Regions from separate parts of the Homo sapiens genome. Here regions 1 and 2 are each linked to region 3. The links come from fine-mapping of genetic effects on gene expression. A gene starts in region 3. Each other region holds a variant in brackets. All regions are shown on one strand. Distances are from middle to middle.

Region 1 (10,849 bases), 29 kb before region 3:
GAGAACTGGGTCGTCCCCGAAGTCTAAGACCATGTATTTTGCAACTTGGACTTAAGGCATATTCAAAAGGACTTCAGTAGAACATTAATGTTCATGCTATGTGCAACAAGTGACTCCGTTTTTTTCTATTAACTAAGGTTTTATCTCTATGTTCCCAAGCAAATCCAGTGATTTGTTAATTTCTCCAATGATTATTGAGTCAATTCAGCGAAGACATCCAGCACATCCTACTTCTATTTATACTCTGGTCAGTAGCTTCTCGGGGACAGGGGCTAAAATGTACAGCGATGACTCCCCTGGCACCTGCATGAAACTGAGGAATGTCCATTTTGAGGTTCCATTTTCATGGGTCTCTGGGCATGTTTTCTATTGCTGGCATGTGTTTGGGAGTGTAGCTAGTGGAAGGGAAACTTGTGAGGCCAGGGGCTCAGCTGTGTGCACTGCTCTCTGCCCTGCGCCTACCAGAGGGCTTTACATAGTAAGTAGATGCTCAACAGTTATCTGCTGAATTAGTGAAGATGGTGGGGAGGGGGATACTGGAGTCTCAAAGTTCACATATACAAGATAGAACTCTGACTCTCCCACCCCACCGCTCCTACCATTTTCTCATCTCAGAAATGACACCCAGTAGCTCAGGCAAAACCCAGGAGCCACACTTGATTCCCCTTTCCCTTGCTCTGCAAGTTCAACTCATCAGCAGGAGTGTCAGTCCTACTTCCAAAATGAAGCCCCAGTCAGAGCGCTTCTCACCTCCTGTGGTACCACAACCGGAATCCAGGACACTGCTATCACTCGCCTGTCCAGCTTGAGAAGCTTCCTGAAAGGTCTGTTTCCACTTTTGCTCCATTCTTGCCCCCCAGAGGTCATTCTCCCCACAGCAGCCAAAGTGATTTTTTTCCAGTATAAACTGAATCCTACCATTCCTGTGTTTAATGCTCGCAGATAAATGCCTGTGGCAATTACAACAAAACCATGGCCTCTAAGGCTACCCCGATCTGGCTCTGTTTCCTGCCCCAGCTCTAACACCTCACTTAGTCCCACCATCCCTTTTAAGTTCCTTGAATATGCTAACGTTGACCCTGCCTCAGGGCCCTTCCCCTCTGCCTAGAAAGCATTGGCCTATCATCATGCACCTTCCCAACACCCTGGCTGGAGATCTCTCCACACTTTCCCCGTGAGATCACTCTCTATCTCCTTATGCAGGTTTTCCTTCATACACTAATCATTATCTGAAATGATTTCATTTACATCTTATTTATAGATGTTCACTGTCTCCCCTCACTAGAAGGTAAGCTTCACAAAGGAGAAAAGGGACTTTATTTTCCTTCTTTTAGTATACCGTACAATGCATGGTATACAGTAGGTATTTGTTTTGTCTGGTAAAAGGAATGAAAAGAAGGATGGATGTATTAAAAAAATTCGCTCAAAATGCATCAAAAACCTAAATGTAAGAGCTAGAACCCTAAAACTCTTAGAAGAATAATTAGGGAAAAATCTTTAGGAATATTGGCTTTGGCAATGATTTCTTGGATGTAACACCAGAAGCACAGGGAGTCCAGTGCGGTGGTCCCAGCACTTTGGGAGGCTGAGGCAGGCGGATCACTTGAGGTCAGGAGTTCGAGACCAGCCTGGCCAACATGGTGAAACCCTGTCTCTACTAAAAATACAAAAAAAAAAAAAAAAAAAAATTCAGCTGGGTGTGGTGGTGGGCAGCTATAATCCCACCTACTCAGGAGGCTGAGGCAGGAGAATTGCTTGAGCCTGGGAGGTGGAGATTGCAGTGAGCCGAGATTGCACCACTGCACTCCAGCCTGGCCAACAGAGCAAGACTCTGTCTCTAAAAGAAAAAAAAGAAAAAGCACAGGGAAAAAAGAAAAAAAAAAACAGATAAACTAGGCTGAATAAAAATTTAAAACTTTTGTGCATCAAAGGACATGGTCAAGAGAGTGAAAAGACAACAAAATTAAAAAAAATTGCAAATCATATATCTGATAAGGGATTAATATTCAGGATATAAAAATTATTCTGGTTGAGCACAGTGGCTCACACCTGTAATCCCAGCACTTTGGGAGGCCGAGGCGGGTGGATCATGAGGTCAAGAGATTGAGACCATCCTGGCCAACACAGTGAAACCCCATCTCTACTAAAAATACAAAAATTAGCCGGGTGTGGTGGTGCACGCCTGTAGTCCCAGTTACTCAGGAGGCTAAGGCAGGAGAACTGCTTGAACCCAGGAGGCGGAGGTTGCAGTGAGCCAAGATTGCACCACTGCACTCCAGCCTGATGACAGAGCAAGAATCCGTCTCAAAAAAAGAAAAAAATTATTCTTGCAACTCACCAACAAAAAACCTCAAACAGCTCAATTCAAAAATGGGCATAGGACTTGATTAGTTATTTCTCCAAAGAATATATATATATACATAGCCAATAAGCACATGAAAAGATGCTCACCATCCTTAGTCATTTGGGAAATGCAAATCAAAACAATAAGATACCACTTCACACCATTAGAATGGCTATTACACACACACAAAAGAAAAATAACAAGTGTTGTTGAGGATGTGAAGAAACTGAAGCCCTGGTGCACTGTTAATGGAAATGTAAAATGGTGCAGCCACTATAGAAAACAGTTTAGCAGTTCCTCAGAAAGTTAAACATAGAGTTACTATATGATACAACAATTCTACTCCTAGGTATATACCCCAAAGAATTGAAAGCAGGGACTCAAATAGATACTTGTAC[A/G]CCAATATTCATCGCAGCATTATTCATAATAGTCAAAAGGTGGAAACAACCCAAGTGTCTATCAATAGGTAAATGCATAACCAAAATGTAGTATATCCATACAATGGAACATTATTCAGCTATAAAAAAGGAATAAAATTCTGACACATGCTACAACGTGGATGAACACTAAAGGCACTGTGCTGGGTGAAATAAGCCAGTCACAAAAGGACAAATATTGTATGATTTCACTTACATGAGGTACCTAGGATAGGCAAATTCATAGAGACAGAAAGTAGGACAGAGGTTCCCAGGGGCTGTGAGAAGGGGAGAACGGGGAATTCGTGTTTAACAGACACACCACTTGTTTGGCATGATTAAAAAAAGAGTTCTGAAAATGGATAGTGGTGATGGTTGCACAACATTGTGCATGTATTTAATGGCATGGCATTGTACACTTAAAAATGGTTAAAATGGTAAATTTTATGTTATACATATTTTATCACAATTTAAAAGATAAGTTAAAGCAGGAAGAAAGGATAGAGGGACAGATGAGAGAGGGGTGAGGGACAATGCCTATGAGTATGGGTGAGGTAAAGACAAAGTTTCACATCCCAGCAGATTTTTAAGAGACCCTAAGGAATTTTGGAAATCCATAGCAAGGCAGAGGGTCTCATTATGTATGTGTTTGTGCAGGGTCAAGAACTGAAGTTCAGTGTTTGCTGTAACTGCAGATGATGGCAAGTTACGTTGTTCATAATGGGAGAGAGTCTTATCTGATGAGCTCAAAGGCCCTTGACATGATCCTGTTTATCTTTGGTGGAGCGGTGCAGGACTCTTAGAAGTATTTGAAGCCAAGCCTGAGCTGAGTTTCTGTTTCGCGTTTCTGGCCCCCAGTGATTGGTTAAACAGGACAAGGACATAAAGTTTGTGATATGTCCCTATACATATCAGCTCTGCCATAAAAAAGCTAAACTCTCTCAGAATTAAGATATGTTAAGCAATGATGTGCTATTATTTATAGGCATGTAAGAGTGAAGGACAACTCATTAACATGGGAACGAAATAAATTCAGACATCTACTTTTAGCACGTTCATGAAATAACAACATTTCAGCTGGCCTGTCTACCAGGGAGTGGAAGTGCTCATTTGGGTAGACAGCGCTCCTCAGTAATGAAATGTTTTGATTTGAAATGTAAATGTTTCTTTCCAGGGGTTTTAGAAATCCAGCTTGGAAGATTAATATATTCTTGCCTGCTCCCCTTGCAGCCTGGCTATGGCAGTTGAAAGCCTCTGTACACAGGGCTGCTATTAGCTGCCACCAGTATGGGCTGTGTTTGGTCAAGAATACTGGCCTGGTTGTTTCTTCCAGAGAAAACCAATCCTTCACTGCTGAACAGAAAAGAACCTTCATCAAATGTCAACTACATTGAATAACCTTTCTGGTGACGTTCTTTGGAGGAGCCAGTATATTCTTCTCACTACCTTAAATCCTGGAGATACTAATAAGCGAAGATTAGTCTATTGCATGTGTAAAACTCTGAAGTGGCCACAGCATTCCTGTAAAACAGTCACTGCCATCAAACAAACAAACAAAATTCCATAGTAGTTATTCATCTGCAAAATGGACAAGCTTATTTCTAAGATTCCTACCAAAGTCCTATCGATCTGTGAATATACACATATCTCAATCACGTAGACTCCAAATGAACCTAGGGCTAGTTTAATTAAAATTAACTATATTTCTCTGAATCATGAAAACATGATCAGAGGAAAAAAGGCAGCAGATGCCTTGGGGTGTTTTATGAATACAGCCTGAGGAAAATCTGGCTTCCTACTTTAAGACAGAACTTATATCCAAAAGATTCCATTTACCTCCCATTTTTGTAAAACTAAGAAATTGGTTTTGTCCAATTAAGATTTTGCTATCTGTGATTTCCCAGTATTGCATGTGCACTGAGGCATTCAGAATGATACCTAATTAAGTTGCTATTTTAGTGTTAATTTAGTGCTATTTTAGTGGTCTCAAATGTTAAGCTGGATCTGCTGCTACGTGGAATAGCTTTTGAAAGTGACAGTCTGGGCCAGTTGTGGTGGCTCACGCCTGTAATCCCAGCACTTTGGGAGGCTGAGGTGGGCGGATCACCTGAGGTCAGGAGTTTGAGACCAGCCTGGCCAACATGGTGAAACCTCGTCTCTAGTAAAAATACAAAAATTAGCTGGGCATGGTGGTGTGTGCCTGTAATACCAGCTACTCGGGAGGCTGAGGCAGGAGAATCACTTGAACCCGGCAGGCAGAGGTTGCAGTGAGCCAAGATTGCACCACTGCCCTCCAGCCTGGGCAATGAGAGTGAAACTCTGTCTCAAAAACAAAAAACAAAACAAACAAAAGAAAGTGACAGTCTGACCACAGTAGAATTAGAAGAGTAAACACCTGTCAGTGTGTACTGATGGTCAGCAATCAAATCGCCAAGGGTATCAGACAGTTTCATCTGAAAATCATGGATACCATTCTTAGAGATGGACCCACACATTTTCCTGAACACTTTCCTGGGCTAAACAAACAGAACCTTTTGGAAGGCCCCTTGCAGGGTGGACAGTGTCACTGGGACCATGCCATAAAGCCAGAAGCTACATTAAAATTGCAGTGAATGCCAGGCACTGTGGCTCATATCTATAACCCTAGGACTTTGGGAAGCCAAGGCAGGAGGATTGCTTGAGCTCAGGAATTCAAGACCAGCCTGGGTAACACAGTGAGACCTATTGTGTACAAAAAAGTTAAAAAAATTAGCCTGGTATGGTGGCACACACCTATAGTGCTGGCTACTCGGGAGGCTGAGGACAGAGGATCACTTGAGCCTGGGAGGTCAAGGCTGTGGTGAGCTGTGATTATGCCACTGCACTCCAGCCCTGTCCCTCCCTCCGGAAAAAATCACTATGACCACTCAGTCTACGGTGTCCCTGAGCTTTCATGGCTCCCCTGTCTTTGGTTGAGTCCTAGTCAGTCTAAGGAAACTTTTCAAAAAGTTATCCTCAGTCAGCCATTAAAGCTTACCTAGACAGAGGACTTAGGAGGAGAGGAATGGAGGTATGTGTTCGTTTAACATGTTTACTAGCCTGTGCTAGGTGCAATGGAAAATGGATGAGCCAAGCAGACAGATTCCTGCCCTCACAGGACTTACAGGCTGGTAGGCTTGGATAAAATAACTGTGAGGGCGTTAGAGAGTGTGATTTTTTTAGTGATTTGGTCCCTTGGACGTATGGGTTAGAATTAAGGGTTTGTGGGTTAGCCCAGGGTCTCTCCTATACTTTGAGACTCCTTTGTTTCTTGTTCATTTCTATTTGTAGATGCAATTGAATTCACTGAGCCTGAATCCAAATCAGGGAAACTGGTGGTTCACGGACTACATTTCATTTGTGCATTGGAAACCAGGGAATTCAACACAAACATCCGGATTGCTGATTTTTCTTGAGAGTTGGTAGTTCTACCAACACTGGGACCTGATCTTCTGCTTGGTGATGATAAACTGCAGCTGAGCTGCTCACCCAGTTAGATGGGTCACGTGCTTTCTGGCTTACCAAAGTCCCCACCACTCCCTAAGGCCTTACATGACATTGTTCACTGCTATTCTCTACCTGGCTCCTGTGGACACATGAGTCTATGAACACAATCTATATAAATATTATCTTAAGTGAGTGGTGAGGCTGTCAACATTCTAAGCACTAGCGAAGTGGGGAGGAAGAAGCTAGTTTGAGGCCCTTGCCTACTTGGAGTGGGGTGAGGGAAAAGCACCAGCACTTGTGGCAAGCAGGCTGCTGTGTGAGTGGATGTTTCAGCTGCTAACTCTGTTCCATGGTCAGGGAATGCCTTAGCCTGTGGCAGAAGATCCTTATCCTCATACCCTCATAGCATTGAGGTGACCTCTGCCTTTCCCATATTGGCCAAGAGGACTAAAGGAGTATTCTGGGCATGGCGACTATGGTGTGGTCCACCAACCAAGCACTCATGCTCTGAGCTCTCTGCTTTATGGTGAATTGCAATGAACAGGACCTTGGCCTATTAGGATCTGATGTGCTAGCTCAAGAGAGGTCCACTGAGGGATCAGAGTTCTTCATGAGAACCTCAGAAGAGCAAACTTTACACCTAGTATGATTCTACCGAATTAGGGATGCAGCTCCATTCACATTCTTCACAAAAATTTAAGAAATGAAATCAGACCCATAGTGACACAGATATGTATCAAGTATACAATCTCCCACATTCATCGAAAGCAATTTGGTGATAGTGTTAATTGAAAGGCTATGCCTATTCTTCACAAAATAGTAGAGACCTGGAACTCTTTTACAATGGAAAATAATATTGGTGGTCCTTTTGGAACAGCTTCACATAGTTATTTATAGGAGCCCTTCAAAGAACAGAAATGGGGAAAAGGGAAATTTTGCCATAGTTCAAGATCAGTTTGGTTGTTTTTGCCTTGAATTTTCATAAAGGATCCATCCCTTCATGAAAATTTTCATAAAAGCCTCACCTCAGCTACAGCTGTATGGATGAACAGAAAGGCGAGGGCCTGGCCCTGTTGCACCAGGAAAGGACAGAACTGCTGTCTGCTGTGGAGGAGACCCGAGAACCACCGGGGAGCCCTGGTTTCCATCCCTGCTAGCCCGCCATCAATGCAGCATGTCTTTCTGGAGGCGCTAGGCTCCTTCGCAGGGAGTGAGGAGCCTGCCGGTCTCTTACCTGGGGCAGCGTTCCTTTCACTAGTGCGGGGATATCAGCTTTGGAGTAACCAACAGCTGCTAGGCCATCATCAACATCCAGATCGAATAAGAATTTCCGGAGCGTGTCTGCCAACACCAGCCCTGCATCTTGGATCCTGGCAGTGCGGGTGTCGGCTCCTAGAAGACATAAAGTGCTGACTGTAGGGAGAGAGGAAGAAACGGGCTCTGGGTGGAGTTCAGTCACAAGATCAGTGAATACACCATGCACACCCACGGGGTCTCCCTAACGCCCAGCACGGGGCCATCGTGTGCCTCCCCAGGAGGGCCCAAGTTGGCTGGGGGAGCTCACTTAGCTCTGACATTTCGGAGGGGCTGCCAAGTCCTACATACTTGCCCCTTGTGTGGTAGGAAGAAGAGGAACAAAGACAAGAAGAGAGGTGCAGAACAAGGCAAGAAAGTCGGCTGGTGCTGGGATGGAGGAATGAATATTTGAAGAACACACAGCTTATGTAATTTCAAGGCTTGGAATTTGCTGACATCTAGAGGTGTATGATGTGTTCAACGTCTTTTCCCACAGCAACATCTTAGAAAAAGACAAATCCTTTGCAAACACCCTGTGAGACAAGCTTACAGAAGTACAAAAGCTCTAAAATTAACCACCAAAAAGAAAATAAGCATGATAAAAATGGATTATGTGTGAACAGGGAGGAAAATTTTTGTCCTCTATAGCTATAAAACTTTTAATTTTAGATTCTGTTGCCAAAGGGCAGGGTAGGTTCCTCTAAATAAATATTATAGAACCAGCTGGGCAGGACCAAAGAACATGAAGGCTCTCAGAAAACAGCGTTTCATATGCAGATAATAATGGTATTGATGAAAGAAGATACATAAGGGCAGAATTTTTACATGATTAGTAATTAAGAGGCCGGGCCTGGTGGCTCACATCTGTAATCCCAGCACTTTGGAAGGCTGAGGCAGGAGAATCACTTGAGTCCTGGAGGTCAAGACCAACCTGAGCAGTGAGACCCTGTCTCTGTTAAAAAAAAAAAAAAAATATATATATATATATATATAATAAAAATTAAAAAATAATGCACATAATCATGGAAATGGCAATCTGGAAGAGCCACGCGGGAGGTTCTGCCCTCAGGCAGGGTGACAGAGAAAGTTCCCAGAGGAAGGGAACTGATTTCACAACCCTTAGCACCCTACATTCTCATATATTCTAGCCAAACACATTCACTGCCAAGAAGTAAAGCCCTCTACAGAGTGTAGCATTATATGAAGTCTATGCAAAATGCCTCCCACAGTAGTCTAAGTCCACTTTCTCTTGTATTGTTCAAAAGGAGATCGTGACTACTTTCACCTCCATATTGAAGCACATTATTAAATCGGTTTTTAGCTTTCTCTTCCATGACAGTGAGAACTCTTAGGAATCCAGGAAAAGGTATGAATAGAACCAGATACGGGGCTGGCTGGGAGAGCAGCCGGATGAAAGGTAAACCTTGCCTGACAAGACCAGTCTGTATTACCCAGCGGCAGCTAAAATATGGATTAGGTGGAGTGGTGACACATGATACGAAGTTTATGAAGTTTTAATGTTCCTGGGAATACTGCCATAAAACACCATCGAAATCTCTGCATTTTCCTATGAAGTGTTACAGAAAAAAAAGAGATGGTAGGAAAAAGAATACATCAGTATTCTAAGCTAAGAAATCTAAGATGACATGGAGAATCAAAATATTTCATCGTGTGGGATAGCTAAGTGTAGATAACATTAAAACTTCCCATTCAAGAAGGAAGAATCAGTGGGTTCTTCCAGCCTGGAATTTGTCTAACAGAGGAACTCCCTTCTCAGTAGTGTTGCTAGTTGCCTAGAGTGTTAACTTTAAGTTCTCTAAGATTTTCCCATTTATCATAAATGTAGCCTATGATTTGCGCTCTCTCTTCTTATTTACATGCTTTGAATATACACAAAGGCAGCTGAGTCCCAAAATATGGCTGAACAACATCTCCAGTCCGAAAGAGAAAAGGGACACAGATCCTTGGCAAAGTTGCACTGTTTCCCCTCAGCACCCTCTGGGAAATGGAGCCCCTGGCCCCTCTCTGCCCTGGGCTTGTGTCATTAACATTCCCAGCACAGCACCTGGGACTCAGCGGGAGCTCCTGCAGGAGGATGTCTGCGGTCCTTCCTACCTCCCTGGAAATAATCTCTCCAACGGCTGGGCTAGGAGAGCATAATGAAGTTTTCTTTTTAGCCTTTCCCTTCTTGCCCTAACTAAACACAAGTGGCGGAATAAGATGTTTTGCAAGTTAATAAAATATTCAAGTCTACTTAAAAGAGTTCTTGTATTAGCAAAACACCAACATTTTACTTACCATTAAAGCTATCCTGAATATCATTTTATTTCTGGTAAGATTCAAAAGGTACTGTGGATATCTTATTATTGACATTATTTATTCTACAGTATGGCAAACAGACTCCTCTTTCAGGATATTTTTATAAAGTTTCTAATTGATCAGGACCTTTGCAGGCTTTGGTGAAAAAAAGTTTCCAGTTGTTTTGATTCTCTATAATTAGGAATTTACTCCTGCTTCCTGATACAGATTCATTTTATTATCGAACATAGCAAAAGTCATTTATAACATTAAAAATATAAAAATAATTATACTTTCCCTTGAGATAAAAACAGGAAACAGTATTACTACAAATACTCTCAATACTCTCAGAAACATAATAATGACAGAATTTTAGTGCTAGATAGGGCTTTGGTCAAGTCACTGACATTTTTAATCATATATTTATATTTTAAAAATGTTTTTAAAGAAACAGGATCTCACTATGTTGCCCAGGCTGGTCTCAAACGTCTGAGCTTAAGCTATCCTCCCACCTCAGCCTCCCAAAGTGTTAGGATTACACTGTGCCCAGCCTGACATTTCATTATTAAGCTATCGCAAAGCAATATTTTTTGGTATTGTCCTTTATGGTTCTTTTTTTTTTTTTTGAGAGAGAGAGTCTCACTCTGTCTCCCAGGCTGGAGTGCAGTGGCATGATAACAGCTCACTGCAGCCTCAACTTCCTGGGCTCAGATGATCCTCCCACTTCAGCCTCCCAAGTAGCTGGGACTATGGTCTTGCACTACTGTACACGGCTATTTTTTTTTTTTTGGTAGAGATGGGGTTTTGCCATGTTGCCCAGGCTGGTCTTGAACTCCTGGGCTCAAGTGATGCACCCAACTTAGCCTCCCAAAATGCTGGGATTACAGATGGGAGCCACCGTGCCTGGCCGGTCACAGAATTTTGAGTAATGGTTCATACCCAGTATTTCTGCCATCTCCAGGTGTCGCTCTGGAAACATCTGGGCCGTGAAAGTGAACACCGCTGGGGACGTGAGCACCACAGAAAGGCC
Region 2 (10,849 bases), 430 kb before region 3:
TGTGGAAAGTAGGTTGGAATAGCGGGAGAGCTGATAATCAGTTTCTACCTATTGGGATATTCCTACAAGTTGGATGGCCTGATCCAGGGCATTAGGAACGAAATGGAATGGAGGAGATCGATTCTAGAATTTTAAAGATTGCACACTGGACCTGGTGATCAGTCTACAATACGCAGAAGAGTAATCGAAAGCTAAGTGGGGTTTTAATATGGGTATGGGTGGATGCTGCTGCTCTAATGGAAATACAGAGCCCAAGGAGAAGTGTTAAGGACATGAGGAAAAGTTCCCTTGAGATATCCTGACTTTGAGGACTCTTGGGATTCCCTGATAGATGTAAGCAGGAGGGGGCCATAAATCAGGGCCTGGAGTTCGGTGGCATCAAAAGAGTTAGAGCTAAGTCTGGGTGTCACTGCGTAAAGCGGAGGCCCTGGGGAGTGGACGCGTTTTCACGGAGGCATATTAAGTCGGGAAAAGACATAGAAGCCTGTGGAAAAGCGTTAAGTGAGGGAACAGGGATAAAATTCTAACTCCCTGTCTTCCCTTAGTCTAACGAACGCCGAGTGTTGCTGCACGTGGAACAGGCGCGGATTCTGTCTTCTCTCCGTGCCCTGTCAGCACCGGGGATGAACTGGTGAGGGGAAGACTGCAGGAAAACACTTCACAACCAAAGCGGATGAAAGCGAGTCCAGACTCATGAGGACCCCTCCCACTGACAGCGGTGACCTCGAGTTAGTGGGACCCCAGCGCTGTAGTGCTTTGCACTCACCTTGACTCCCACCAAGCTTGGCGGTTGCTCTCCGCCTGCAGCGTAGGCGGAGCGGAGTCCTAGCGCGCATGCGCGCACGTCCCGGCCGTTGGCTGCGTCGCGGGGCCTGCCGGGACCGCCCGCGCCCTCGGGTCAGCAGGGGAACTAGCCGGGCTTGTTCCCTTACGTTTTAATAGCTTCACTCTTGCTCCCTCCCAGCGAAGCAGAGAAAAAATAGGTCTACGTTTGGTTTTTGTTGTTATCTCAGGCAAATGATGTTATGTTTAAAAAATTCAAAACGCTGCTTCAGGGAATGCAAAATGTCTAGTCACTTTAGAAGACATTCCAGTATTCCCTCGAAGGACTCAACATAAAGTTACCCTATGATCCAGTAATTCCACTCTTAGGTATTTATAAATACACCCAAGAGAATTGAAAACATATGTTCACACAGAGACTTCTACACGAATGTTCATAGTATTATTCATAGTAGCCCCAAAGTGGAAACAATATGAATGCCCATCACCGATTAATGGATAACTGTGGTGTAAGCCATACAATGGAATGGTTTTGGCCATAAAACGTGATGAGGCACTAATACATGCTACAACATGGATGAACCTGGCAAACACTATGTAAGAAGCCAGACACAAAAGGCCATATGTTGTGTAATTTTGTTTATATGAAATGTCCAGAATAGGCGAATCCATAAGGAAAGAAAGCAGATTTGTGGTTGCCCAGAGGTTGGTTGAGAATGCAGAATGATTGCTAATGCGTATGGGATTTCTTGTTCTTTTTAAATTGTGGTAAAATATACATAAAATATACAATTTTAACCATCCTAAAGTGTAGTTACACTACCTACGTTCACACTGTGCACTCATCACCACTATCTGTAGAACTGTTTTCATTTTCCCAAACTGAAACTCCATACACATTAAACAACTCCCCATTCTTCTCTTCCTCATCCCCTGGCAACCATCAGTCTTTGCTTCCTTGAATTCGACTACTCCAGGTACCTCATGTAAATAGAATCAAACAGTATTTGTCCATTTGTGATGGGCTTATTTCACTTTGCCAAACATCTTCCAGTTTCATCCATGTTGTAACATGTTAGAGTTTCCTTCCTTTTTAAGGCTGAATAATATTCCACTGTGTGTGTACCATATTTTTTGTTGTTCATGAATTCACACAGGTTTTCTTTTAGAAGTGATGGAAATGATCTAAAATTGATTGTGGTGATAGTCACACAACTCTGAATCTACTGAAAGCCAGTTGATTGTACATTTTAAATAGTTGAATTGTACAGTACTTGAATTAAATCTTATTGAGGTTGGCCGGGTGCGGTGGTTCACGCCTATAATCCCAGCACTTTGGGAGGCCAAGGCGGGTGGGTCACTTGAAGTCGGGAGTGGACACCAGCCTGGACAACATGGTGAAACCCCATCTCTACTAAAAATACAAAAATTAGCCAGGTGTGGTGGCGCGCGCCTGTAATTCCAGCTACTCTGGATTAATACTATTAGCAGACAGGATAATCACTTGAACCCAGGAGGCAGAAGTTGCAGTGAGCAGATATCGCACCATTGCACTCCAACCTGGGCGATAGAGCGAGACCCTGTCTCCAAAAAAAAAAAAAAAGAAACTGTTACCAAAAAACCCCAAACCCTTAAATTGTACCTGCTTCTCCACCATTAGTATTTCCTTTTTTTTTTTTTTAAGACAAGGTCTACCTGTGTCCCAGGACACAGTGGCCCAATCAGGGCTCATTGCAGTCTCAATCTCCTGGCTCAAGTGATCCTCTCACCTCAGGCTCCCAAGTAGCTAAGACTTCAACTATGCCTGGCAAACTTGTAAATTTTTTTTCGTAGAGACAGGGGTCTCATTTTGTTTCCCATGCTGGTCTCATACTCCCGGGCTCAAGCAATCATCCACCTCAGCCTCCCGAAGTGCTGGGATTACAGGCATGAGCCACCGTGCCTGGCCTCAACCTTTAGTGTTCTTGATACAGTTATCAACTCTGCTCCATTGCATTGGGTTGGATCATTTTCCATGAAAAAGTAATTGAGGTCATCCCTTTTCATATATAATAGGAGTGGCAAAACACCTCAGAGTTTGTTTCTCTGGGAGAATATAATCTATTTTAGTTGTGAGATAAAATACTTTTTCAGAGTAGAAATCAATTTACAACAACAATGAGGATGTTCAAATTGTCTTGTACTACAATTCTGTGGTAATAACTACAGTTTTAGATGGGAATAGGCTATGGTCTGGTGATGGCCATTGTATTTTAAAGTAGAATAAATTCTTCTAGAGGGTATCCATATATTTTAAAGTTTTTTTTGAGATGGAGTCACACTGTGTTGCCCAGGTTGGAGTGCAGTGGCATGATCTCTGCCTCCTGGGTTCAAGCAATTCTCATGCCTCAGCCTCCCGAGTAGCTGGGATTACAGGCACATGCCACCACGCCTGGCTAATTTTTGAGTTTCTCGTAGAGTTGGGGTTTCACCATGTTGGCCAGGCTGGTCTTGAACTCCTGACCTCAGGTGAACCTCCTGCCTTGGCCTCCCAAAGTGGTGGGATTGTTATAGGCATGAGCCACCGCGTCTGGCTATTTTAAAGTTTTGATTAATCAGTTCATAGCATAACATCGTTCGTTTCTGCACCAGAGTAATAGTTTTATATCAACCAAGTCCAGCAAAATCTTCTAATAGATTTTTATGTATTTAATACATCCTATAAAATATCTGCACAGTCAGGCATGGTGGCATGCACCTGTAGTCCCAGCTACTAGGGAGGCTGAAGTGGGAGGTTGCAGTGCATTATGGTTGCACCACTGGACTCTGGCCTAGGTAAAAAGTGAGACTCTTAGAAAAAAAAAATCTGTTAGACCTAAAATTGGAATTTAAAACCTTAAGAATTCAGCACATTTTATACATTGCAAACTCTCTGAAAATGATAGCGATATCTAGAGTCAAAATGCCATTGCTGCTTATTGCTACATACTTACAATACTTTATTTTTACAAAACATCACTAAACAGCAGAAAGAAATTACATGCAATCTGGTAAAATGGCTCAAATATTAAGGTGGTAGAATTATGAATTATTTTTATTTTTGCCTTTCATATAGCTTTTTTGCCTTTTAATATTTTTCATTGAGGTATAATTCATATGTAGCAAAATGAACGGCTCTTACATATTGTCTTATGAGTTTTTGAGTTTTGAGAAACACAAAGCTTTTATTTTTTATTTTTTGTTTTTATATTATTATTATTATTATTATTATTATTATTATTATTTTGAGATGGAGTTTTGCTCTTGTCTCCTAGGCTAGAGTGCAATGGCTTGATCTTGGCTCACTGCAACCTCCGCCTCCCAGGTTCAAGTGATTCTCCTGCCTCACCCTCCTGAGTAGCTGAGATTACAGACACCTGCCACCATACCTGGCTGATTTTTGTATTTTTAGTGAAGACAGAGTTTCCCCATGTTGGCCAGGCTGGTCTCGAACTGCTGACCTCAGGTGATCCACCTGCCTTGGCCTGTCAAAGTGCTGGGGTTACAGGTGTGAGCCACTGCACCTGGCCAATTTTTTATTTTTAAAATTTTTTTCAAAGCTTTCTTTTAATTTTAATTTTTAAATTCTGTTTATTTTTGCCATGACATATTTTCATCAGATAATTAAAAAAAATTTTTTTAGACACGGTCTCACTCTGTCACCCAAGCTGGAATGCAGTGGTGCCATCTCAGCTGACTGCAACCTCCATCTCGTGGGCTCAAGGGATCCTCCCGCTTCAGCCTCTGCAATAGCTGGAACTATAAGTGCATGCCACCACACCTGACTTAACAGGTATTTTAAAGGATGTATTAAATACAGAAAAATCTATTAGAAGATCCTTCTGCCTCAGCCTCCCTAGTAGCTGGGACTACAGGTGTGCACCACCACACCCAGCTAATTTTTTTTGTATTTTTTGTAGACAGGGTCTCACCATGTTGCCTTGGCTGGTCTCAAACTCCTGGGCTCAAGCAACCTGCCCATCTCAGCCTCCCAAAGTGCTAGGATTGCAGGTGTGAGCCATCATGCCCAGCCAGCCTTGTAATATATATTAAAGTCAGGTAATGATGCCTCCAGCTTTGTTCTTTTTTTTTTTCTTTTTGTTTGTTTTTTTGAGATGGGGTCTTTCTCCGTCACCCAGGCTGGAGTGCAGTGGAGTGATCACAACTCACTGCAGCCTTGAACTCCCAGGCTCAAGTGATCCTCCTGCCTCAGCCTCCCGAGAAGCTGGGACTACTGGCACATGCCACCATGCCTGGCTAATTTTGAAATTTTTTTGTAGAGATGGGGTCTCTCTTTGTGGCCATGGGCTCAAGTCATCTTCCTGTCTTGGCCTCCCAAAGTGCTGGGGTTATAGGCGTGAGCCACCCAGCCAAGCTTTGCTCTTTTTGCTCAGGCTTTGTTTAGCAATTCAGGCTCTTTTTTGGTTCCATATGAATTTTAGGATAGCTTTTCTAATTCTGATAAGAATTGCATACAATCTATAGGTTGCTTTGGGCATCATGGTCATTTTAATGATATTAATTCTTCTGATCCATGATCCACGAGATGTTTTTCCATTTGTGTCATCTTCAATTTCTCTCTGTTTTGTAGTTTTCCTTGCAGAGATCTTTCACCCCCTTATTTACATTTATTCCTAGGTGTTTTTTGGTTGTTGCTGCTGCTTTGTTGCTATTGTAAATGGAACTGCCTTCTTACTTGCTTTCTCAGCTAGATCATTATTGGTGTATAAAAATGCTACTAGCTGGGTGCAGTGGCTCACGCCTGTAATCCCGCACTTTGGGAGGCCAAGGCAGGCGGATCACCTGAGGTCAGGAGTTCGAGACAAGCCTGGCCAACATGGTGAAACCGTGTCTCTACTAAAAATACAAAAAGTTAGCCGGGCGTGGTGGCGGGCATCTGTAATCCCAGCTATTTGGGAGGCTGAGGCAGGAGAATCGCTTAAACCCAGGAGGTGGAGGTTGCAGTGAGCCGAGATCGCGCCACTGCACTTCAGCCTGGGCAACAGAGTGAGACTCCAGCAAAAAAAAGAAAGCTACTGATTTTAGT[G/A]TGTTGATTTTGTATCCTGCAATTTTACGGAATTCATTTTTCAAACCTAAGAGTTTTGGGGTGGAGTCTTTTACTTTCTTTCTTTTTTTTTTTTTTTTTTTTGAGACAGGGTCTTATTCTGCAGCCCAGGTTGGAGTGCATTAGTGGTGCAATCACAGCTCACTGCAGCCTTGATCTTCTGGGCTCAAGCGATCCTCCCACCTTTGCTCCCCAAGTAGCTGTGACTTGGGGAGCAAGTAGGTAGCTGTAGACGTGTACCAACATGCCTGGATAATTTTTTATTTTTTTGTAGAGACAGGGTTTCACCATGTTAGCCAGGCTGGACTTCAACTCCTGGACTCAAGAGATCTGCCTGCCTTGGCCTCCTAAAGTGTTGGGATTACAGACATGAGCCACTGTGCTTGGCCAGGTTTTTCTAGATATAGGATCAGGCTAGGCGTGGTGGTTCATGCCTGTAATCCCAACACTTTGGGAGGCTGAGGAGGGAGGAATGCTTGAGGTCAGGAGTTCGAGACCAGCCTGGGCAACACAGCAATACCTCATCTCTACTAAAAATGCAGTTAGCCAGGCATGACTGGCTAGTTTATCACATATGATAAACTACAGGTGTGTGCCTGTAGTCCCAGCTACTTTAGAGGCTGAGGTGGGAGGATCACTTGAGCCTGAGATTGAGCTACAGTGAACCATGATTGCAGTACTGCACTCCAGCCTGGGCACCAGGGCAAGAACATGTCTAAAAAGAAAAAAAACATCATCAGTGGAGAGGGTCAATTTAACTTCCTTTTTTTTTTTTTTGAGACAGTCTCGCTCTGTCACCCAGGCTGCAGTGTAGTGGCACCATCTCAGCTCGCTGCAACCTCTGCCTCCCTTCTGGGTTCAAGCGATTCTCCTGCCTCAGCCTCCCTAGTAGCTGGTATTACAGGCACCCACCACTACGCCTAGCTAATTTTTGTATTTTAGTAGAGACGGGGTTTCCCCATGTTGGCCAGGCTGGTCTCAAACTCCTGACCTCAAGCAATCCACCTGCCTCGGTCCCCCAAAGTGCTGGGAGTACAGATGTGAGCCACTGTGCCTGGCCTAACTTCCTCTTTTCCAACGTGGATGCTTTTTCTTTCTCTTGCCTGATGGCTCTGGCTATGACTTCCAGAACTATGTCGAATAGAAGTAGTGAAAATGGGCGTCCTTGTATTGTTCCAGTTCTTAGAGGCAAGGCTTTCAACTTTTTCCATTCATTATATTACCTCTGGGTTTATCATATATGGCCTTTATTATTTTTAGGTATATTCCTTCTATGCCTTGTTTTGTTGAGGGTTTTTATAATAAAGAGATGTTGAACTTTATGAAATGCTTTTTCTCCATCTATTGAGATGATTATGTATTTTCTCCTTCATTCTGTTGATGTGATGTATCATGTGTATTGATTCGCATATGTTGAACCATCCTTGCATCTGTTACATATACTTGACATAGGATCAAGTATAAATCCCAGTTGATTGTGGTGTATTATCATTTTGATTTGGCTGTGATTCCATTCAGTCATAGGCTTTTCTTTGTTGGGAGACTTTTTGTTACTGATTCAATCTTGCTACTCATTACTGGTCTGCTCAGGTATTCTATTTCTTCCTGATTCAATCTTGGTAGGTTTTATGTTTCCAGGAATTTATCCATTTCTAAGTTTTCCTATGTATAGTTGTTCATAATAATTTCTGATAATCTTTTCTACTTGTGTGGTATCAATTGTAATGTCTCCTTTTTCATTTCTGATTATTTGGATGGTCTTCTCTTATTTTCTTGGCTAGTCTCGCTAGCAGTTTATTAATTTTATCTTTTCCAAGAACCAACTTACTTCATTGATCCTTTATATTGGTTAGTCTATTTCATTTAGTTCTGCCCTGATCTTTATTATTTCTTCGCTCATCTTGGGTTTTGTTTGTTCTTGCTTTTTCTAGTTCCTTGAAGTACATTGTTAGATTGTTAATTTGTAACCTTGCTACTTTTTGGATGTGGGCATTTATTACCATAGGCTTCTCTTAGTGCTGCTTTTGCTGCATCCCACAGGTTTTGGTATGTCATGTTTCCATTTTCATCTGTTTCAAAAATTTTTTTTCCACTTCCATCCTAATTTCTTTGTTGACCCAATGGTCGGTCAGTCGTCCAGGAGCATGTTGTTTAATTTCCACATATTTACAGTCTCCAGAGTTACTCTTGGTATGGATTCCTGGTTTTATTCCATTGTGGTCTGAGAAGATACTTGATACATTGATTTTTAAAAATTTGTTGAGGCTTCTTTTGTAGCTTAACATATGGTCTATTCTAGAGAATGTTCTATGTGCTGAAGAAATGGGTGTATATTCTGCAGTTGTTAGATACAACGTTGTGTAAATATCTGATAGGTCTATTTGTCTAAAGTCCAGTTTAAATTCAGTGTTTCTTGATTTTCTGTCTAGGTGATCTAATACTGAGAGGGGGATATTGAAATTCCCCATTATTGTATTGCTGTCTATATCTCTCTTTAGACCTAGTAATATTTGCTTTGTTTTTAATCTGGGTGCTCCAGTGTTGGGTGCACATATATTTAGAATTGTTATATCCTCCTCTAGGCCTAGCATGGTGGCTCATGCCTGTAATCTCAGCACTCTGGGAGGCCGAGGCAGGCAGATCACTTGAGGCCAGGAGTTCCAAACCAGCCTGGCCAACATGGTGAAACCCTGTCTCTACTAAAAAATACAAAAATTAGTTGGGTGTGGTGGTTCATGCCTGTAATCCCAACTACTCAGGAGGCTGAAGAACGGGAATCGCTTGAACCTGGGAGGTGGTGGTTGCAGTGAGCCGAGATTGCACCACTGCACTCCAGCCTGGGCAACAGGGTGAGACTCAGTCTCAATAAATGAATGAATGAATGAATGGGAAATCCCACTTTAAAAAACAGACCTAATTTCCAAACTGCTTGTATGAGGGATGAAGTTATCAATTTTAACACTGTATTGAAAAGGTCATTACAGCATTACCAAAAATGCTCATGCCTATCCCTACTTTTCATAGAGTACATTATACACAAAAGAATGACTTACAAAATGTTTGTGTACAGTTCTGTAGTATCATTTGGCTGTGGAAAATCAATATATTTGTTACAAACATGCTAAAGATATTGGTAATGATAAATTTTTCAGTGATAAAAATTCAGAATATTTAAACTCTCATTCAAATGTTTACTCCTGCTGAAATGATATCTGAACAGTTTGCTGGCTTTCTTTGTAAATTGCATATGAAAACTTCATACAGAGGATCTGCTACCACTGTCTGCATCGTTGGACACCTATTCCCCAAGTGTGACAAATTTGGTAATTTTCAGTGTGTATTATGATGTGACAATGGTTGGGAAGCCCTATTTTGTACCATATGCAATAAAATGGGAGGTATGGGTAACATTAAAAATATTATAGTCTTCATTTAGACCTTTGGTATATTTTGATAATAACCATGAAATGGTTATTCAAAGGGCATACATTTTCCTAAAAGACTTATGCTATGAGAGAAAAGGTAAACTTGAAACTTAGAAAACATTTTGCTCTCTGAATATTATACACATAAGCCTATGATAATCTAGTAATTCATGTGTCCAAATAATTTCTGTTCACATTTTATTTTTCCCCCACACACATATAAATAATTCATTTTATAATGACCATTGCAACCATTACCAATTTCAAATAATGACAGACATTAGTTGATCTTTTTGCTGATTTTATTATACTATATAGATTTGTATTTCTTGTGATCTGAGAAACATCAAAATTCTATTTTAAATTTGTTCTTAAAAATATACAATATTGCACTTTAATTTTTGGCAGCTTAACAGGAATGAATGAGTACAAAAAATCATACAAGAAACTAGAATTTTTATTTTGCTTCATAATAAGAGCTTTGTGAAAAACAAAACTTACAGTAGTGCCAAATAAACCAAATATTTACAGTATAGATATTAAAGTCTTACCTCTAAAGGAAGATTCAGTGTATTGGATGTAAATATTATTAATATAAGAAAAGTCACCCCCACTGCCCAATTCTGCTGAACATTTTAAGCCAAAGAGTATTGGTGAGAAATGCTTCTGTGATTTCTTTCTCAAGACATACATGGAAGGGATGCTTGTTCTTGGAGCATCTAAAGTGGGTCATTAAACTTTTACAAAAATGTTTCCTCCATAACTTAAAAAAAACCTCTACTCTAAGCCAAGAATCCAAGGTAAGCTTATTTTTTATTTTTTAAAGTTCTTCTGTAGTTACTCTCTCTTTTTTTTAAAATAAATAGAAATGAGGTGTCACTACATTGCCTAGGCTGGTCTTGAACTCATAGGCTCAAGTGATCCTCCTGCCTTGGCCTCCCAAAGTGCTGGAATTTTATAGGCATGAGCCACCGTGCCCGGCCAGTTATTCTCCTTTACTTTTATAAGCATGTAAGTTAGTTGGTAGGTTACAATTTTAAGGTCTGTTTCCTGTGCTTTTTCTAAGATATATTGAATTGGATACTGAATACACATCTGCCTGATTTTCAACTTTTGTTACATTGTAATAAAACTGTATACATTTACTTTGACCCACAATTTGTTTTTACTTTTTTTTTCTCTTAACTAGGGTCTCGCTGTGGCACCCAGGCTGAAAAGTGCAGTGGCACAATTTCAGTTCACTGCAACTTCCATCTCGTGGGCTCAAGCCATCCTCCAACTTCAGCCTCCAGAGTAGCTGGGACTAAAGGCATGTGCCACCATGTCTGGCTAATTTTTGTATTTTTTGTAGAGATAGGGTTTCGCCATGTTGCCCAGGATGGTCTCAAACTCCTGAGCTCAAATAATCTGCCTGCCTCGGCCTCCCAGGGTGCTTATAGGCATGAGCCACCATGCCTGGCCTATTATTTTACTTTTTAATTCCCAATTAGGCAAATATTCTAGAAAGCTCAATTTTTTATTTTACTTAACCAGTTAGGAAAAGAGCTTTGAAATACCT
Region 3 (5,000 bases):
TAAATGCAATCACTCATAGCCTTATAAAAGGGAGGCAGAGGGAGATTTGACCCAAAAGACAGAAATGTGAGCACTGAAGCAAGATGAGTGCCAGCTGTGAAGATGGAGGAAGGGGCCACAAGCTAAGGAACCGAAGGTAGAGCTCTAGAAGCTGGAAAAAAGCAAGTAAGTGGATTCTGCAGCACCTCTGAGCCTTACTCAAGAGGGAGTGTGGCCCTGCTCACACCTTGGCTTCAGCCTAGTAAAACTCATTTCAGACTTTTGACCTCTGGAACTGTTAAGACAAATGTGTGTTAAGCCACCAGGTTCATGGTAGTTTGTTACAACAGCTGTAGGAAACTAACATAGTGAGGGCTGCTCTGAACACCTCAAAAATTGCATCCCTTCCTTCAACATCCCAGCCTCCTTTATGTTCTCTGTAATAACTTTCAACAGCTAATGTACTCTCAATTTTACTAACTAGTTTGTCATCTATCCCCTGTGCCCCATGCATGGTGTGGTTAGGTTGTTTTGTTCCCTGCTGTACCCCAGAGATAACACAGTCAAAGCAGGGCTGCATTGCACATCTTTTTTTTTTTTTTGAGACACAGTCTTGCTCTGTAGCCCAGGCTGGAGTGAAGTGGCCTGATCTCTGCTCACTGCAAACTATGCCTCCCAGATTCAAGTGATTCTCCTGCCTCAGCCTCCTGAGTAGCTGGGACTATGGGCACCCACCACCCTGTGCAGGGCTGCACATCTGGAGACGGAATGTGACTCTTGCCCTCCAGGGCCTTCCCACAACCTCTCTGGCCAGTGCACGCCTTGCCTCTGTCTCCTTCAGTGCTGATTCTTTCCCCTCCATTCAGTTGTCAGCGCAGTTGCTCTATGGAATGTGTTGGGCAGAAGCCCAGAGTGCATGCTCTGTCCAATAGAAATGGCCACACATCACCCCGTGCCCTAGCCCACTTTGCCCAGATGAAACATGTGCCCAATGATGCCATTTTCCAATTTTCCAAGATTTTCATTGGAAATCTCCCACTTTTAAAATGTTTACCCTATTAGAATAATAAGCATGTGCAGAAGAAAGCACCATCTTGCTACTCCTGCTGTGGCAGTGCTGCTCCCCAGGAATTCACCCTCAGCTGTTTCCTTCTAGGTTAGAGTTTTGTTAGGGCTTCAACTGTCCTCCATACGCATGGATGGATGTGTTCCCAACTCACTCTTGAGCCCCAGAACAATACATTCAATCACCTACTGGGGTCTCCATCTGAATGTACCAGAAGCATGCTCAACTCAAAATGCCCTAGACTGAAGTTGCCATTTTCCTCCTAACACTAACTCTCCTACAATCCCTGCCTTGGTAAATGAGCCCACTGTTTACTTGATGCCCAAGCCAGAAATCTCAACTCTTCACTATTCAGATACAAAATCCTGTGGATTCTAACCAACCTCTCAGCATTTCTATCTACCCAAGGAACTGCCTCTCCGTGCATGAAGCCATTATCTTCAGGCTGGAGCAGGACAATGACCTCTAGTCCTTCCTCTTCACTCCACATTTCCACCAGAATGTGCTAACACAGTTCTGATTATGCCATACTCCCTTTTCATGCAACCATTCCAAAAACATATTCTGTGTGTGACACTGATTCCATGGGATATAAATGGTGTTGTGTGACAAAGAGTTCTATGATGACACAGGTTTACAACCAAAAATTTGAACACAGCTTTAGTATTTTTTGTAGCTTCTTGGAGCCCTGCATGTCTAATGTATATTTTGATTCTCCAAGAGGGCAATACAGCAGTAAGGAGCTTCTCAAACTTATTTGGCCATGTAATTCTTTTGTCATGGGACATTTTAAGGTATCAGTGTTTAATGGTGACAAATATTATTCAATGGCTTTCCATTATCTACAGCACACAATTCAAATTCCTTACTACAGGCCTAAGAACAAGGACTGTGAAGCCAGAGTATCTGGGTTCAAATTATGACTGTGCCATTTGCTTAGCTGTGTGACACTGGACAAATTCTTCTCCATGCCTTTATTTCCGTATCTATGAGGATGACAATACCGTGTGTCATAGGGTCAGTGAAAGGATTAGAGTTACTATTATACTGATAGTCCATTCAAAGTGTGTAAGACACTGCCGGGCTCATCGTATTAGCTATATTCTTATTCATGGTCTTTTATCAGCCGTCTTCTCCATCTTTACCTCCTCTTATAAAGGTAGGTCTACTTGTCTTTTGTGTCCTGGGACTGCATCTCCATCGCTGGTGTTGCTCTTCTCTCTGCCTGACGTTCCTCGCCAGTCCCTCGCCTTTCCTCCTACTGATCTGCACCTGTGAGCTCAAACTTTTCCATGTTTCCCAGGCAGACTTGTGCACTTGCACAGTCAGCAAGTATTTATCAGGTGACCAGGATGTACCTCACATTTCTGCTGGGAGGCAGGCGTGTCATGACATTGAATACCCTGACTCCCTGTACATGCCAGGAAGTGTGACTCTGCGACTTCTCACATCCATCCTTCCCTTCTACACCCAGTCTGCTATAGCCGGTTTTAGCCTCGTCCCCTCATCCCATTCCCCACTAGACCTCAAACTGCTCCAGAGCCTTTCATCTTTGTATCCCCAGAACCTAGAATAGTTTTTGGCACATAATATATGCCCAATAAATATGTGTCAATTGCATACATGAATTTGTCTTGGCCACCGTGCCAAGCTCTCCACTGCCTGCTACGATGTGGGACCAGGTCCTCTCTGGGCCTCAGTTTCTTTAACGGTAGACAAGCAGAGTAAAGGCTGCCTCACTGCGCCCTGAGAGGCTGCATCGCGCACTCTGTGACCTCGCTGTTCCGCCTGGCGCGCGGTGGGAGCCCAGGGCGGTATCCAAATTCTCCGAATTCTTGAAAGTAAGCGGAGAAGACTGCGCAGGATCTGAGCGGGTCACACCCAGGGGGCTGCGTGGGCACCCTGCGGTCCCCTGCCCGCCCGCCGGCCCCGCACTCACGCTGCGCGTTGCAGTTGCCTCAGCAAGTACGCGACCCGGGCTCGGGCGGCAGCGGCCATGGCGCTTGGAGTCCTCTTCCCTCCTCGGGTCGCTACACCGCCCCCTCCGCCGGCCAATCACGGAGGCTGCCCGCCTCCCGCCCCTCGGCCGCGCCTGCCCACCCGCTTCGCGGGGTCACCTGTCTAAGCCTCAAGCCAGTCGGGCTCAGGGCCATTTTCCCACGGAGTAAGAACCAGAACGCCAGCTGCCCCAGCGGCGCTCGCACCATCCACCCTTGAAATTGCCGTAGAAGGTAACTGCTCCGTAGGCCTCGGGTTCTGCCTTAAATCTCCTTACTTATCAACTCTATTTTTCACATGTTGAGGACTTGGGGGAAGGAAGAGGAACAGGGATATTCTTTTTCCACTGTTAATCCTTTAAAATGTTACTTTCCCTTCTAAGAGTATTTTAAGTGATCAAGACCCTGCCTTTAAACTGTTTTAACAGTAAACAAGAACCTAGCAGAGCCCGAGGGTTTTTGTTAAATACTGTGTGAATGGCTTTGCTTTTGATGAAAGCAAAATCAATAGTTAAAACTCTTACATCAATAGTTAAAACTTGCCATGATTAGACTATGCTCCGGGAGGGCTTGGCTGTGCCATATCTGCCATGTCCCAGTGGAAAAGCTGATTAACGATAAAGCTCAACTTTATCAGAAAGTATCCAAAGACAGTAACAACTAAACATTTGCATTTTTAGTAATCTGTTATTATGAAATCTGAATCCTTTATGGGAGATATTAAGTTTTACAGAAATGAATTTACTGCGATCAAACTGGAAAAGATTGATGGACAGGAAGACCAAGGACAGCTATATAAACATTTCACCTCCTAATCAAACCAGCTCAGGCCAACTTGACAAATGAATCAAAAAATAATGTTCTATGAGAACACATGTACACAGGGAGGGGAACAACACACATTGGGGCCTGGGGGCAGGGGATAGAAGGGGGCAGAGGGACTTAATACTTAGGTGATGGGTTGATAGGTGCAGCAAGCCACCACAGCACACGTTTACCTATGTAACAAACATGCACATCCTGCACATCTACTCCGGAACTTAAAAAAAGATAATAATGTCCTAATTAAGGATCTTATGGGTCTGTTTCTTTCTTCCCCCAAACAAAACTATACCTGACGTCAAGCTTAAAAACAAACACACACACACAAACAACTGGGGATATAAACGTAGAGAAAGATTTAAGTGTTTTCTGGATTAATGAGGATTATTACCATTAGTCAATGAAGCCCAAATTGATCATTTACAGGAAATCCATGTGTTCAGTGTTGAAAGGCATAAAATCTTTTTAAAAAACAGACATCAGTTTTACTACTTTGAATATTATATTTGATACCAAAAGAAGTATAAGTTTAGAAGTGGTATCACTGAAACCATTATAATTGAACTGCTTTTTTTTTTTGAGATGGCCCCTTCCTCTGTTGCCCAGGCTGGAGTGGAGTGCAGTGGCGTGATCTGGGCTCACTGCAACCTCCGCCTCCCAGGTTCAAACGATACTCCTGCCTCAGCCTCCCAAGTAGCTGGGACTACAGGTACCAGCCACCGTGTCTGGCTAATTTTTTTATTTTTAGTAGAGATGGGGTTTCACTGTGTTGGCCAGGCTGGTCGCGAACTCCTGACCTCAGGTGATCCGCCCGCCCCGGCCTCCCAAAGTACTGGGACTCTACAGGAGTGAGCCACTGCGCACGGCCTGCTTTGTGTTTTTCAGAAAGTAAACAAAAATAATCTGTACCAGGTATCCAGGTAACCGGCTTCAAGTACAATTTCTACCCAGTAGTCAGAAAGTTAAAAGTCACACTAGATAAGACATCTTTATTACTTAATCTTTAAAACAGTCACTTGCCTATTCAATTCTGAAACTGTTTGTTTTCTTTCCCTCCCCCGCACTCCCGCTCTGATACACAAACTTGTTGTAAAAATAATGCAGAAACATATACGTCAATCTAAGTCTCTGAAATA

Alleles and levels. Positions count from the first base shown, and alleles are read on the strand shown. Sizes are in standard deviations (SD) of each study's normalised expression. Not every link is listed here.
For the expression in CD4 T cells of the gene that starts at base 3,056 in region 3, allele G in region 1 goes with a higher level than allele A (moderate effect, 0.72 SD a copy in Kasela 2017).

What was found.
Region 1: its variant is fine-mapped to the expression of ADHFE1 in CD4 T cells (Kasela 2017, PIP 0.90).
Region 2: its variant is fine-mapped to the expression of ADHFE1 in whole blood (TOPMed, PIP above 0.99).

Annotation. Positions count from the first base shown.
Region 1 is chr8:66,457,076-66,467,924 of GRCh38, reverse strand. It overlaps ADHFE1 (alcohol dehydrogenase iron containing 1), which reads right to left. Exons shown (of 14, transcript NM_144650.3): 12 at 10,759-10,849; 13 at 7,460-7,617. Among named protein-coding and RNA genes, the nearest start is that of ADHFE1, 30 kb to the right of the region's middle. RefSeq lists an enhancer at 9,353-9,881. The variant A/G (reference allele first, on the strand shown) is at 2,743.
Region 2 is chr8:66,860,749-66,871,597 of GRCh38, reverse strand. It overlaps C8orf44-SGK3 (C8orf44-SGK3 readthrough), which reads right to left. Exons shown (of 19, transcript NM_001204173.2): 19 at 9,576-10,849. SGK3 (serum/glucocorticoid regulated kinase family member 3) reads right to left here. Exons shown (of 17, transcript NM_001033578.3): 17 at 9,576-10,849. MCMDC2 (minichromosome maintenance domain containing 2) reads right to left here and starts at 827. Exons shown (of 15, transcript NM_173518.5): 1 at 767-827. RefSeq lists an enhancer at 541-610. The variant G/A (reference allele first, on the strand shown) is at 5,849.
Region 3 is chr8:66,430,560-66,435,559 of GRCh38, reverse strand. ADHFE1 (alcohol dehydrogenase iron containing 1) reads right to left here and starts at 3,056. Exons shown (of 14, transcript NM_144650.3): 1 at 2,985-3,056. The coding sequence starts at 3,043. RRS1 (regulator of ribosome synthesis 1) reads right to left here. Exons shown (of 1, transcript NM_015169.4): 1 at 4,827-5,000. LOC102724687 (a long non-coding RNA gene) reads left to right here and starts at 3,194. Exons shown (of 5, transcript XR_929013.3): 1 at 3,194-3,276. RefSeq lists a silencer at 2,803-3,222 and an enhancer at 4,979-5,000.